Homo sapiens: one gene and its partner. The protein of the gene in region 1 interacts with the protein of each later gene in a pairwise test. Each region holds a gene or a part of one and is shown in the gene's direction. Other genes may lie near its edges.

The links.
Region 2: the proteins of RUSF1 (region 1) and PGRMC2 interact in binary tests that used the Homo sapiens proteins (3 or more experiments, as listed by UniProt).

Annotation. Positions count from the first base shown.
Region 1 is NC_000016.10:31,505,384-31,512,978, reverse strand, and holds the start of RUSF1 (RUS family member 1), read left to right. Parts: upstream 1-4,587; 5' UTR 4,588-4,605; coding exon 4,606-4,905; intron 4,906-5,100; coding exon 5,101-5,215; intron 5,216-7,595.
Region 2 is NC_000004.12:128,284,792-128,292,419, reverse strand, and holds the start of PGRMC2 (membrane-associated progesterone receptor component 2), read left to right. Parts: upstream 1-4,606; 5' UTR 4,607-4,629; coding exon 4,630-5,047; intron 5,048-7,628. UniProt on the Homo sapiens protein: Required for the maintenance of uterine histoarchitecture and normal female reproductive lifespan. May serve as a universal non-classical progesterone receptor in the uterus.

The DNA of each region.
Region 1 (7,595 bases):
ATTCAGTCTTGTAATGAGGGTGTTAAAGAGTAATGGCAGTAACTGTTATAATGACGGTCTCAAGTAGTAACAGTAGTAACTGTCATAATGATGGTCTCAAGTAGTAACAATAGTAACTGTTGTACTGATGGTCTCAAGTAGTAACAGCAACTGTCATAATGACGGTCTCAAGTACTAACAGTAGTAACTGTCATAGTGAAGGTCTCAAGTAGTCAGTAGTAACTGTCGTAGTGAAGGTCTCAAACAGTAACAGTAGTAACTATCATAATGAGGGTTTCAAGTAGTGACGGTGGCAGTCAGCCATAGAGAAAGGGGAACTATCACTCATCTCTTTGTCAAGCCACCTATCTGCACACTCAGGTCACAGGGAAGTGTATGATGGGTCCTTGCCCTCAGGCACTTACAGTCCACTTGGGAAGACAGGACATCTGTACCTAACAAAAGCAAATACAAACTGGCTCCAGACAGCATAGGCTAAGAGTTAAGTAAATGCTACAACGAACAGGGACTGTCATAGTCTCTGAGTAAGGAGATGTCAAGGTGGACAATGGTAAGCAGTAGAGCTGCAGTGGGTTCATAAATAATGTGACCATATATTCCCATTTGCCTGAGACAGCTTCACTGCAGACCTGTTTTCCCGCAGACCTGTTTTCCCAACACAATTATTACCAGTGCTTCCTTTAATGACCCTCTCAAAAGTCCTGGTTTGCACAATAAATTATACAGTGACACTAGTCATGAGGGCCACCTGCCTCACTTGGAGCCAAGGGCCTCACATTTGAACACTTGACATTATCTCTGAATAAGAACCAACACTTAAACAGTATGTACTATGTGCTAAATACTTTAAGAGTTTTGCACATACGACATGACTTTTTTGTTTTTTGTTTTTTTTTTAGACAGAGTCTTGCTCTGTCGCCCAGGCTGGAGTGCAGTGGCGCAATCTCGGCTCACTGCAACCCCCACCTCCCAGGTTCAAGCAATTCTCCTGCCTCAGCCTCCCAAGTAGCTGGGACTATAGGCACATATCACCACACCTGGCTCATTTTTGTATTTTTAGTAGACATGGGGTTTCACCATGTTGGCCAGGATGGTCTTGATCTCTTGACCTCGTGATCCGTCCGCCTCGGCCTCCCAAAGTGCTGGGATTACAGGCGTGAGCCACCGCGCCCGGCCAAGACATGACTCTTAATTCTCGTTCCAACTCTGTGTGGTAGGTACTAGTATTATTTCCATTTTACCATTACCATTTCGTCTTTCAGAAGAAGAAACTGAAAGACAGAGAGATATGTAACTTGCCCAAGATCTCACAGCTTCCTGGACAGCTTCCTGGACAGAACCTACATTCACAGTAAGGCCCTCTGATGCCCCAGAGTCCTATCCACTCACAGAAGCTAACCTTTCAAATATAACACAATGCTTGATCTTTCACTGTGCCAGGAAACTCAAAATTATTTTGAAAGGATAATTTATTGACAGTGTTATAAGCTAAATGGAAAATAAGAATTAAACATTAAATTTCTGCCAGGCACAGTTCATGCCTATAAGCCCAGCACTTTGGGAAGCTGAGGTGGGCAGATCACTTGAGCCCAGGAGTTTGAGACCAGCCTAGGCAGCATGGCAAAACCCTGTCTCTACAAAAATAAAATACAAAAATTAGCTAGCCATGGTGGCACACGCCTGTGGTCTCAGCTACTCGGGAGGCTGAGGCAGATCACTTGAACCCTGGAAGTTGAGGCTGTAGTGAGACTGTAGTGTGATCACACCACTGCACTCTCTGGGTGACAGAGAACCTGTCTTTTAAAAAAAATTAAATTTATTCAACTACTTCTCTAAAGTGCCACTCCAACATATACCAATATATTCTTTAATCTCAAGAGCTTTGGGAGGCCGAGGTGGGAGGATCACTTGAGGCCAGGAGTTGGAGACCAGCCTGGGCAACATAGTGAGATCCCATCTCTACAGAAAATTTTAAAAGTTGGCCAGGCATGGTGGTGCATGCCTGTAGTCCCAGCTACTTGGGAGGCTGAGGCAAGAGGATCACTTGAGCCCAGGAGTTTGAGGCTGCAGTGAGCTATGATTGCACCACTGCACTCCAGCCTGGGTGACAGAGCAAGACCCTGTCTCATCGATCGATTGATTGATTGACTGATAGAATAAAAAATAAATCTTAACCCTAAGGATGAAGAAGAGCTTGGCCTACAATGTCCTGCAGTTTGGCCCCTAACTCCCTAGCAGCCCTTTCCCCATGCCCCTCGTGCTCTAGACTTCTGCTGCACCGGCCTTTGTTGGATGTTAGGTACCATGCTCCCTCCCCACTCAGGACATGCTGCTCCTTCTTTCCAGAAAATTATTTTCCCATCATAATCAAGTTAACTCTTACTCTAGATCTCAGCTAAATACACACTTCCTCAAAAAAAAAGTTTCCCAGCTGGCCTCAACGGCTCATGCCTATAATCCTAGCATTTTGGAAGACCGAGGCGGGAGGCCTGGGCAACACAGAGAGACCCCAACTTAAATTTTTGTTAAAAAATTTCCCTTGGCCGGGCACAGTGGCTCATGCCTGTAATCCCAGCACTTTGGGAGGCGAGGCAAGCAGATGAGTTGAGGCCAGGAGTTCAAGACCAGCCTGGCCAACATGGCAAAACCCCGTCTCTACTAAAAATACAAAAATTAGCTGGGTGTGGTGGTGAATGCTTGTAACCCCAGCTACTCCGGAGGGTGAGGCAGGTGAATCACTTGAACCCAGGAGGTGGAGGTTGCAGTAAGCCAAGACTGTGCCACTGCACTCCAGCCTGGGTGACAGAGGGAGACTCCATCTCAAAAAAAAAAGTTTCCCTTGATTCCACTGATTAGCTCAATTCTCCTTCTAAAAGTCCTCATATTAAATAACATGTACCCCTCTACAGCAATTGAAATAGTTCCAACTTTGCATTTATTTGTATGATTTGATCAATATCCTTCCCTAATATAAGTTCCAAAAGACCAAGACCCTTGTTTGTTTTTGCTCACTATCCCAATGAGCACATAGGTAGCAACAGGTATTTGTAGAAGAAACTGGCAAACCATTGGTAAAAAAGAGATAACAAACACGGAGTTAATGACAACTGCACGGTTCAAGCGATTTTCTTGCCTCCGCCTCCCGGATAGCTGGGATTATGGCCACACCACCCCCACGCCCAGCTAATTTTTGTATTTTTAGTAGAGATGGGGTTTCAACATGTTGGCCAGGCTGGTCTTAAACTCCTGACCTCAAGTGATCCACCTGGCTCGACTTCCCAAAGTGCTGGAATTACAGGCGTGAGCCACCACGCCCAGCCCAAGGATCACTTTTGAGGCCAGGAGTTTGAGAGCAGCCTGGGCAACATAGGGAGGCCCTGCCTCTATTTAAATAAATATGTTTTTAAAGTACTTAGTCTTCAAACCTTGTTTTATTTTTGTCCTCTATTCAAACCAGTACCTGAATTTAGACAACATTACAGAAATGTTGTGATTAGGCCATTTGTATTTTGAAACCCGAAATTTAAAGAAAAAAAAAAAGAAAAGAAAAGAAGTGTTCAAGTTTATCTCAGTCAGAGAGAGACTGTGTTTGTGTGAGATAAGGCGAAGTGGGGTAGAAGGGCCTTCCAGGATTAAGTCCACGAGGAAGGTGACGGTTTGGGAGAATCTGAAGTTTCAAATAAGGAGTTGTCGGTTGGGATCAAACTGTGGGGATCCAAGAATGCCAGGCTAAGAAACCAGGATATTTTATTTTCTGATAAAAAGAGGATGCTTTTTTGGCAAATTTCTGCTTCGGAGTGAAGATGCTGCACTAGATGGGAAGGAGAAGAGGAGAAATGGAAAGAAGAAAAGGTGAGTTCCAAGGACAGAAACACTCCCTCTTTGGACTCCCCCCAATTTCATGGACTCTCTCCCGCAAAAAAACACACAAGAACTTCCTGCCTTGTTTCCTTGTTTTGTGACATCATTGCAATCTCTTGATTTTTTTCATCCCTCGGATTCCTTAGCATCCTTCAAAAGTAATGTTCCTGCAGTCTCGCAGAAGGCCGAAGGATGGAGAATTTCTAGTCCAGGCCAGGGACACTCAGAAGAGAGAAAAAAAAAAGAACAAAAAAAGACCCAAGCAGCTTCACAGGGCCTCATCTGGTCCAATTTCTTCTCATGATGCATTCATTCACTCATAAATATCTTTTGAGCACCTACTATGTGTTGGGTAGATCTAGGGATAAAATCAGGGTTAAAAATACAGTCGCTGGTCTCACAGCAAAAAAGGCACCTGAGGCCCAGAGAGGGCCACTGACTTGCCAAAAGTCACAAGCTAAAACTTCTGTGGCCGAACCGCGTCTCGAACACAACTGGCGGAGGCCCACGGCGCCTGCAGCCCAGCTGCAGAATGCTACAAAGCAACGGGGGCCGGTGCCGGGGCGTCCGAAGCAGCGCCGAGGCCGGAGAGAGCGACAGTCAGTTTCCTAACTGCGCGGCGGACGCCGAGGCCGGCGCCTGTTCTTGAAAGATGTCCCTCTGCAGCCGCGGTAGCCCAGCCGGAAGTGCCGCCTGCCACGTCCACCGTGCGGCAGGGGCGGGGCTGGGATCCAAAAGCTCGGCATGGCTGACGACGCGGGTTTGGAGACCCCGCTGTGTTCCGAGCAGTTCGGCTCCGGGGAGGCACGGGGCTGCCGCGCCGCCGCGGACGGGAGCCTGCAGTGGGAGGTCGGGGGCTGGCGCTGGTGGGGGCTCTCCAGGGCCTTCACGGTCAAACCTGAAGGACGAGATGCGGGCGAAGTGGGGGCTTCCGGGGCCCCCTCACCGCCCCTCTCCGGGCTCCAGGCCGTGTTCCTGCCTCAGGGCTTCCCTGATAGCGTCAGCCCGGACTACTTGCCCTACCAGCTGTGGGATTCCGTGCAGGTCAGCTCGGTCGTCTGGGGCAGAGGACAGTGCAGGCCACTCCTCCCTCCCCAATAATGGACGGGTGACTGAGACTCGGAGCCCGGGGGGCGGGGGGTCTGACATGCCTCATACACCAAGAACAAGAACAGATGAAGGCACTTAGACCGCCACGCTCCTACGCCCGCTTCTCACCCTACTTGTTTTCTTCTCCAGGCGTTTGCTTCCAGCCTCTCCGGCTCCCTAGCCACCCAGGCAGTCTTGCTGGGCATAGGGGTGGGGAACGCAAAAGCCACTGTTTCAGCTGCCACGGCCACCTGGCTCGTGAAAGGTGAGCTGCACCCCTGGAGCCTCACGTATTGCTGCTTTCAGCCCTGCTTTCGCTGGGCTCTTATGTGTATATATGTATGGACTCGTGCCCCATTAGGTAGAATTCAGGCAGGTCTCCCCAGTGATTAGAGTGGTGCTTTGTAACCCAGTCTTACTTCCCACATCTGGAAGACCCTCATCCCACTCACCAGCCTAGCAGCCGCACTCCATTCCCCACACAGACTTCTGAGTCTCAATCATCTGGATCCCAAATCCCGTCCCCTCCCCTTTATCCCTATTCTCTTTGTGGAAGATTGCATAAGAATGCAATTGATGGAATAAAACTGCCAGCTGCCCAGGATAGGGGAAATTGGTGAGCTCCAGAAAAAAAAGATATAGTTGGTCCTGAGAAGGAGAGAGGAGAGCCTGGAAAGAATGGAAGGTATTGTGTATGCTCTGGGATACCAGATGATGCTGTAAATAATAGAGTGACTATCTGCTGAATATGTACAGCTTTTAAAAAATTGTTTAAGGAAAAAAAATACAGTTTGGTACCATGCCACCCAGAGAGGGAAATAGAACAGAAAAGGGAAATTGTTACATGTTCTACACGAGGAGGCCCCATGGCTTTTGCCACTGTCCTTTGTCTTTCACTACTGCTCGCAGGGGATATTTATTAGGCTGGTGCAAAAGTAATTGCGGGGTTTCTTTGTCGTTATTGCCATTAAAGGTAATGGAAAACCCGCAATTACATTTGAGCCAACCTAATAGATCTAAGGAAAAGCGCTTTCCATTCGTAGCATCAGTCTGGCCACATCCCTTGTGAGCCTCTCTGGATTTTTTTGAGAAAACAGGAGCTTCCTGTTTACACCTTTACCATTAAGACTGAGAAAACTGGGCCGGGCACGGTGGCTCACGCCTTTAATCCTCGTACTTTGGGAGGCTGAGGCATCCTGGGCAACATAGGGAGACCCCCATCTCTATTTTTTTTTTTCCAGACTCGTAGTCTCACTGTCACCCAGGCTGGGATGCAGGAGTGCAGTGGCACAATCTCAGCTCACTGCAGCCTCCTCCTCCCGGGTTCAAGCGATTCTCCTGCCTCAGCTTCCCAAGTAGCTGGGATTACAGGCATGTGCCACCCTGCCCCGCTAATTTTTTGTATTTTTAGTAGAGACAGAGTTTCACCATGTTGGCCAGGCTGGTCTCGAACTCCTGACTTCGGGTGATCCATTCGCCTCAGCTTCCCAAAGTGCTGGGATTATAGGCGTGAGCCACTGCGCCCGGCTTGTTGGCCGTATTTTTGGAATGCATTTGGAGCTTGGGTCAGTAGTTTTTGTTTTCATGTGATGTCACCAACATGTTGCCTATACAGATTGAATATCCCTTATCCAAAATGCTTGCAACCAGAAGTGTTTTGGATTTTGGAATTTTTTTTGGATTTTGGAATATCTTCATGTATATAATGAGATTTGTTGGGGATCAGACTCAAGTCTAAACATGAAATTCGTTTATGTTTCATATATACTTTATACACATACCTTAAAGGCAGTTTTATACAGTATTTTCAATGGTGTGCATGAAACAAAGTTTGTGTTCATTGATCCATCAGAAAGCAAAGATGTCACTGTCTCAGCCACACGTGGACAATCTGGTTGGTTAGCGTCCCCATCGTTCCTGACTCTGAATGTATATGCTACCAAGAAGCAGTCATTTTCTTATACCTATTCACACAGAAGTACTTAACAGTATAAAACATGATATACCACTAATACAGTGAGAAATTGTGTGTTCAGGGTAACTAAGCAGCACAGCAGATCACCAGAACACCTGTATCAGCTTCTGAACCATAGCAGCAGCAACAAAAACGGCAGGCTGTCAGTCTTCAGCTGTTTTGGTGAAAAGGTTACTGGACACCATATTTTATTTTTTTAAGGTGAGAAGAAACATTAGAAGCAGTTGAAGGACAGGAAGCGGGTCCTCTAGGGATGAGGAAGTGTTCTGCTGGATGGCTTTTTAAAATGTTTCCTCCAGAGTCATTTGCCTCATTAACTGTGGTTTCTATCTTAGAAGTCTCTCTTGGATTCTATAAACTGCCTGATTTCTTGTTCCGTTATGAATGTATGCTGCTCTAGTGCCACAGTAATCCCCTCCCACATCCTCACCGTGCTGTCTATAGGCACTTTTTCTGTAGTGGTAACAGTATCCTCTTCATTGTCACTGTTACCATGATTGCCTTGATTCAGAACTGAAGGAGGCCAGCCCTTCCACACTGTGGGTATTTCTCATCAGGTGGGACGAGAGACTGAGAAAAGAAATAAGACACAGAGACAGAGTATAGAGAAAGAACAGTGGGCCCAGGGGACCGGCACTCAGCATGCGGAGGACCAGCACCAGCACTGGTC
Region 2 (7,628 bases), on another chromosome or scaffold:
TCCATGAGCAGGATGGCTCCCAAGAGAAAGTGGAGAGGAAGAAGGTGGGCTGCCCACGAGCCAAACTTAAACATCGGGAAACTCACTGGTGGCACTCAAACAGAGCATCAAATGATATGTTCGTGGCACTCCAATGTTTCAAGAAAAATGTGATATGGAAAAAAAAAAAAAGTTTTTCCCTAAAATAGGGAAAAATTACAAGAAACAATCTCTCTTATTTAAGAATTATTTATTGAATATCATGGTGCAAACTTCTGAGCTAGGTTCACTGGGAAATGCATAAGTGAGTCAAAGCTGGATGCTGCCTAACAACCAACCACTAGTATTTCTAACTCAATTATTATATATGTCAGTGACTCATATTTTAGATTTTTGTTATAGCACCACCCTATTTCCAGTACCAATTTTTATATTAGTATGCAAAAGTTGATACCAAACAACTCCAAATAGCTAAGTGACTCAGGACAGCAGAGATGTATTTCTTATTCATATACCTAGGTATGTTATTTGGGAGCTGTTTTCCACTTTGTCCTGTCTCCGAGACCCTGGCTGATGGAAGCCCACTCAATTTGAAACATCGTTGGAGTAGTGATTAAAGATGGCCACATTTTCCTGTAACTCTGTGGTTGACAAAAATTTTTGTAATAAAGATGGCCACAAATTCTTTGTCACTCTCCCTCCACCCCTATCAAGTGTTTATTTCCTCTCCCCTTAAAATTGAGCTGGCCCTGTAACTGCTTTTACCAATACAACATGTCATTTCCAGACCTAAGACTTACAAAACCTCGAAGTTTTTGCTTTTATTGCATTTGAGAATCCTAAGCCACCATGCAAGAAAGAAGTCAGGCTACTCTGCTGAAGAAGCCATGTGAATCAGAGAGTCTTTGGAACGGCATGGGTAAATAGAAAAGCTCAGCTACTCTAGCAACCTAGTTGAGCCTCCAAAAACTCCAGCCCCAAACAATACCAGGCTGGAACCACATGAGAGACCCTGAGCAAGATTAGACAACTGCCCATGAGCCTAGTCAACCCACAAAACTGTTACACATAATAAAATGGTGACTGTTTTAAACCATTAAGATTTAAGGTGCTTTGTCATGGGACAATAGATAATTAAAATATTTCATCACTGTTGGCAGGAAGAAACAGCGCAGGATAAATGTCCACAGGCTCTTAAAGCTTTTATTTGGAAATGACACAAGTCACTTCCAATCACATTTCATTGGCCATTCTTGAGGTAAAAGGAGTAGGGAAATCCAAATCTACGTGTGTGGAAAAAGAAATAGAAATATTTGGTGGCTAGTACTAATATCTTCCAGAGATTTACAAGTAAATCAGTAAATAGATGAAGTGTCAGGGGAAAAAAGCTAACAACAGGAGAAAAGAATGTACATGACGATTCTTGTAGATGTCCTCTAGGCAAAGCAGGGATGTAAGAGGAAAAGGAGGGTAGAAAGAAGTCAAAAATAAAAAAAATAAAAAAGCATCCGCAGGGAAAAAGTAGAAATCTTGGGATCTAAAGGACAGTTTCAATAACAGAATAGTCAAGAAGAGCATAAAATAAAAGGCCAAAATGGGTGGTACAGGTAAGGAACACACAGAAATTCAAAGAAGGTAGGTTAATGTGGGCTGATAGAGGCCTCAGGTGGAAGTAGAATTGAAAGAATGGATAGGTCATGGAATTTGTATGGTTAGAAATAAGAAGGGCATGCTCCGTGAGGAAACAGCATGAGTCAAGTCCTAGACTGTGCAATACACATAGCATATATGGGGCAAGGGACTAGGTATTGTAAGGGGAAACGTATCATTTAATAGAGGGTATCCAAGGGATTGTTTGCTGGGGAACGGGAAGGCAGGGAAGCCACTCAGGGACTTATGGAGGCCCTTGAGTGCTTTCTGAGTTGTCCTCTTCAAATTACAGAGCACCCCTGGAGATTGGTGTCTGAGCAAAGGAAATCAGAACACAGTTCTAGTCTCTTCGTGTAGGAATGAAATAGGAAAAGACTGACGGCAAGTCACCAATTGGAAAGTTATTGCAGTACTCAAAGCAAGAGTATCCTATTGGGACAAGAGCTTGTTACTTAGGGTGGAAAATAAGAACTTCCAACTAGTCCAGTTCAAGGGGCTTACAATGAGAATCAAAAAAGCTGGGGTTTTGGGAAGGCTTCAAGTGTGAAGAAGTCGAGACACTATTTTATCAAGGATATAAAGGAAAACTTTTTTACTTCACGTGGCAGCCAATGTTGGTTAGCTACCCAACATTCCCCAGCCCACTTCCTTGACAGCAGAACTTTAATACTGTCCAATTCCTCTCTTCCCTCCAAACCAACTGGAAAAGAAACCTACACACACTAATTCAGCCCCAAGGTAAATCCTGAGGGTCTAAGCTACTGGTTCTCAACCAGTACCACACCTCTGGGGGGTGGGAGGGAAAAACGGTTGATTTACGGTGTCACAATGCCTGAGGTGTGGTACTGACATTTAGCTGGAAGGAACCAGAGATGGTAAATGTCCAGCAATGCTCAACACAGTCCTGAATAAGAATTAAAAAAGCCAGATAAACACTAGGCAATCATGGATGTCCCATGCTCCTTGTCTGTTACTGCTTTAGGGACAGCTAATAGCCCAGTTCTGGTCAATAAGATATAAGGAGTGGCCTGCTTCTGGGGTGCTTTCTTCCTTCCTATCAATGTTGTCTCAACTGTATACAGCTCTTGGGACTGCTACAGCTATCTTCTCCTCAAAACCAGTTTCTTCTTTATCTTCCTATTTCCATCACTGGCACCTCCCATTTTCTGTTACCAAGTCCTAAAGCAATTTTGACTTCTCCTAACCCTTAACCTTAAGGTGACTATTCCTTTAGGTTTGCCTGGGATAAAACTGATATAACTCCTGGTCTCTGGCTATAATTATTAATGCCCTACTTTACTTCCAAAAGTGTTCCATATTGAAGGATAGAGTATATGGTCATTTACTACCAATTGTGTCGCTCTCCCTCAGGTACCTCTAATGCAGGGCTCAGCAATATGGCTTATAAGTTGTTTTTGCACCTCTCCAGAACTAAAAAAAAAAAAATTTACATATTTCAATGATTTTCTTAAAAATCAAAAGAATATTTCATACCTGAAATTATATTAAAAATTCAATGTCCATAGTTTTACTGAAGACAGCTACACTCATTCAAGTATTGTCTATGGCTGCTTTCTCGTTACAAGGTAGAGCTGAGTAGTTAAGGCAGAGACTTAAAATATGATCGGGCCCTTTACAAAAAATGTTTGCCAACCCCTGCTCTAATGTCTCCCCTAGCTCTGAGTCTCCTCACCTCACGCACAAATACCCTAGCCTACTAACTGCTTTCCCACTCTTTCCCCAGCCTCTAATCCTTCAGACACCTGGTTGCTATACAGCCTCTCTACAAGAGTGTCGACCCTGTCACTTGCCTCGTCAATATCCTCAGTGACTCCTACAAAACCGACAGTGAAAGGTTCAAACCTATTCTATGAGACTCAAGACAACAGACAACAAAGGGCAAGAGAGAACACGTCAAACGAGTTCGTCAAACGAGTTGAGTGCGTGAGACTTCAGAGGTCACTTTTTCACACTAGAATTTCAAGGTGTGAGAGGCTAAAAGACGTCCAAGTACATGAAACAGAACCTGCAAATAAGAGTGAATGACGAATAGAAAGACCACCTCAACCTGTCCACTTCCCTACGGCCGCAGAAGTTATGATTCAAGGAATAATGAGACTCTAAATCCTTTAAAATTCTACAAGAGCAGCCTTTGCCAAACCCAGCGGGGAGTGGCTGCTCGGTGCCAGCGCGAGGAGCACGTAGACTGCCGATGCCAGAGAAGCCCGGTGCGGGTTCCGTGCTTTCTCTCCGTTCCAGGAAGACCCCAGCTCGTGGCCAAATCTTCTTGCCGCTTCCCGGTCTGCGCGCCTACGCTGCCGGTTTCCCGACAAAAGCGACGGCGCCCTGGTGAAAAGCAGACGCCCCTCATCGGTTTGCGCCTTGCAGCTCAACTATGCCCCAGCCTCCCACAAGCCACCTGCCCGCGTCCTCCGCCAGGCGTCCAGCCCGGACCTGCCCCCGCGGCCGCCAAGGCGCACGTGAAGCTCCCGGGCGGGGGGAGCGCAAGGAGGCGGGAGTTTGCGGACGCGAACGCAGGCCTAGGAAGGGAAGCGATTCCAGGGCGCACGCGCAGAGCCTGGAGACTGGGCGGGGCGTGCCTCCCGCAGGGGTTACGAACGAAAGGCGAGCGCGTGGCGCTCAGGAGCCCGCGCACGCGCTGTGGTCTCGCCCCGCCCATGAGCGTCCGCGCGGCCGTCGTAGCATCTTTTCTTCAGACCCGCCCGGCTCGTCTACTTAACCTAGCGGAGGCTTGGAGTGAGAGCAGGGAAGTGTGGGGCGAGGTGGGCGGGGCGTTGCACGCGTGCGCGGCCAGCGAAAGAAGGGAGGGGGCGGGAGATCCGAGACAACGTTACCCCGTCAACACCCAATCAGGAGCCGGCCTGACCCCGCCCCCTCTTCTCACGTTATTGGCTGAGAGGCCCCCAGATGGGCGGGGCCGGCCGTGGGGTTGGGGAGGGCAGGGGGCGGGGAGGAGGAGGAAGGCGCTGGCGGGCAGTGATGGCGGCTGGTGATGGGGACGTGAAGCTAGGCACCCTGGGGAGTGGCAGCGAGAGCAGCAACGACGGCGGCAGCGAGAGTCCAGGCGACGCGGGAGCGGCAGCGGAAGGGGGAGGCTGGGCGGCGGCGGCGTTGGCGCTTCTGACGGGGGGCGGGGAAATGCTGCTGAACGTGGCGCTGGTGGCTCTGGTGCTGCTGGGGGCCTACCGGCTGTGGGTGCGCTGGGGGCGGCGGGGTCTGGGGGCCGGGGCCGGGGCGGGCGAGGAGAGCCCCGCCACCTCTCTGCCTCGCATGAAGAAGCGGGACTTCAGCTTGGAGCAGCTGCGCCAGTACGACGGCTCCCGCAACCCGCGCATCCTGCTCGCGGTCAATGGGAAAGTCTTCGACGTGACCAAAGGCAGCAAGTTCTACGGCCCGGGTGAGGAGTTGGAAGGGGAGGGGAAGGACCCCCTGCAGCTGAAGCACAACCCCCTTCGGACAGGGAGGCCTCTGGGCACCGGGTTAGTTTGCCCAGCCTTCTCGTCTCCGGGACCCCCGCGCCTCGGCCGCCGCACCTGGGACGGCCCATCCCGCCCCTACACACACACCGTCCCCCCGCAGCTACGGGCACCTCCAGTTCTTCCCCCGAAACCAGGGTCCCCGGTGGCGCCCCAGAGACCAGCTCTCAGCATTCATCTTTCTTCCATCCCATTTCTCCTCGCAGCCTTTTTTTTTTGTTTCTTTGGCTGGATTTTTCAAAATCGTTTTAGTTGTCACAGGTCAACGCTGGCCCTTAACCTTTTTTGAGTCTCCTGATTCCTGGGATGGATGGGGCACCAGGGAAGGGAGATTTCTGAAGTTGGGACCTAAACTAAAGTTTTGGGCTCTGTAATTCACCGTTTTCTTTTCCTTGCCCCCTTTTTTTTTTTTTTTGCCACTGATCTCCTTTTTTCCCTCGCTGTATTACTCCGTAAGGCCACGTTTAGGGGCATGTAAAGTCCCAACCCTCCAGTCTCTGAAGTCCAGACGTATAAGCAACACCTCGGACTCTCTTTAAACCAGTTTTAGTTCGGAGTTGCTTTCCATGATTAACAAGGTATGTGGGATGAGAACAGACCAGAATGCAGAGCTTATTAAAGACTGGTAAGGATATTCACCTTGAGTTTTGGGGGTGGAGCTCCTATACCCAGCAGGCGTGTCTCTGGTTTCTTTTTTCTTTTTTTTTCTCTTTTCAAGTACACGTTGATAATGACTTGTGTTTTCACTTAGCAGAACTAAGGAGAAAAAACTTAGAAGAGTTGTAGATTTATACCCCCATGTGCCAGTTATGCAAGTTAAAGATTTTTAGAACTTTGTTTTGAGAGAACTTTGTTTTCAGGGAACTTTGTGTAGGGTAGTTGATTTAGACGCCCTTTTTTTACAGTGTGGTTGTAGCATACATTTTGGATTATGTTAATAAACCCCAGACTCATGGAACCTGTTGGTATATCATACAGTTGAGCAACATTGTGCATCCTGGTTGTGCACTGATTAATACTAAGCTTTAAAAAAAAGTGGTGACTACAATAAGAATAAATAATTAAATTAGAGACCTAAAGTGACCTGTTATTGGAGAGAGTACCTCCAAGCCTTAAAGTCATAGGGTTGGCAGTCTGGAAGTAAGCTGGTTTTCTCCTTAATTTAATCTGTAGGTGTATAAGATTTATTGACACTTAAAAATATATACTTCTGATTTCAGTGCTTGATAGCTGGAAGATATTTTAGAAGTGCTTTGGTTTGTAGTTTGTTCATTGGAATAGGGATAAGAAATAGGAGATTTTTGGTGTTGAATTATGTAATTTATTTCTTAGTTGTTTGTACTTCTGTGTATATATACACATTTAATCCAACCAAGTAAATACATAGCTTACAGAGTTTTTGCTTCTGGTTACATAAATGTGAACACAAGGTGTCTGCCTACTTATATCAACTGAAATGGTTAATACATTTTTGTTTACTTAAGCACACGTGGGACAAGAGAACAGGGCCAAAGTACAGTATTTAAACAGGCCAAGCGAAGTAAATTTTTTTTAAATCAAGGATTTAGACAGCATTTTATACCTAGTTCAAGCTTTTCCCCCATTGGTATTAAAATGTGTTAAGTGATTAGAAATCCTGTACAGGTTTAAATTTTTAATATAGACCTTACCCAGCTAAAAGATCAGCTTTTGTACCCTGTCTGAACTGCCACTGAAGAAAACAAAGTATTAGTACAAAGAATCGTATTAGTCCTCACACATTATGCCTTGGCAGTATCTGAAAATAGCTAAGAGAGACAGTCATAGAAACAGTTTGGCAGCCTCCAGTGGCAAACGTTTGTTCTGTGATAGAAATTAAAAATTAAAGCCAGGCGTGGTGGTTCATGCCTGTAATCCCAGTGCTTTGGGAGGCCGAGGCGGGTGGATCACCAGAGGTCAGGAGTTCGAAACCAGCCTGGCCAATATAACAAAACCTCGTCTCTACTAAAAATACAAGAAAATCAGCTAGACGTGGTGGCGGGTGCCTGTAATCCCAGCTACTCGGGAGGCGGAGGCAGGGAGAGTTGCTGGAACCCGGGAGGTGGGGGTTGCAGTGAGCCGAGATTGCGCCATTGCACTCCAGCCTGGGCGACAGAGAGAGACTCGGTATAAAAAAAAATTAAAAATTAAGAGTCATAGGTGGTAGATTGCTTTTTTATGGTATGTGCACTGAGGGAGGCTCTTGAGATTACAATGGAGAAGTCAGTTTTAGATTAGTTTCTGCCAGTTCCTAGGTTCTGTTGAACAGCCTAAGAGTGATATACAGTTAGTATTCTACAGTTGATCAACAACATAACAGATATTTGAATATTTTATTATTGAAAGGAACCTTAAAGAAAGCCAGATCATTTTATGGGCTTAGAATATGTTGATATTGCATATTAATAGAAAATGTAATAAGTAGTACTTTTCAAAAAATCTTAAAGCCAAATTTCTGGCTATAAAACAGATACAAGTTCAGTT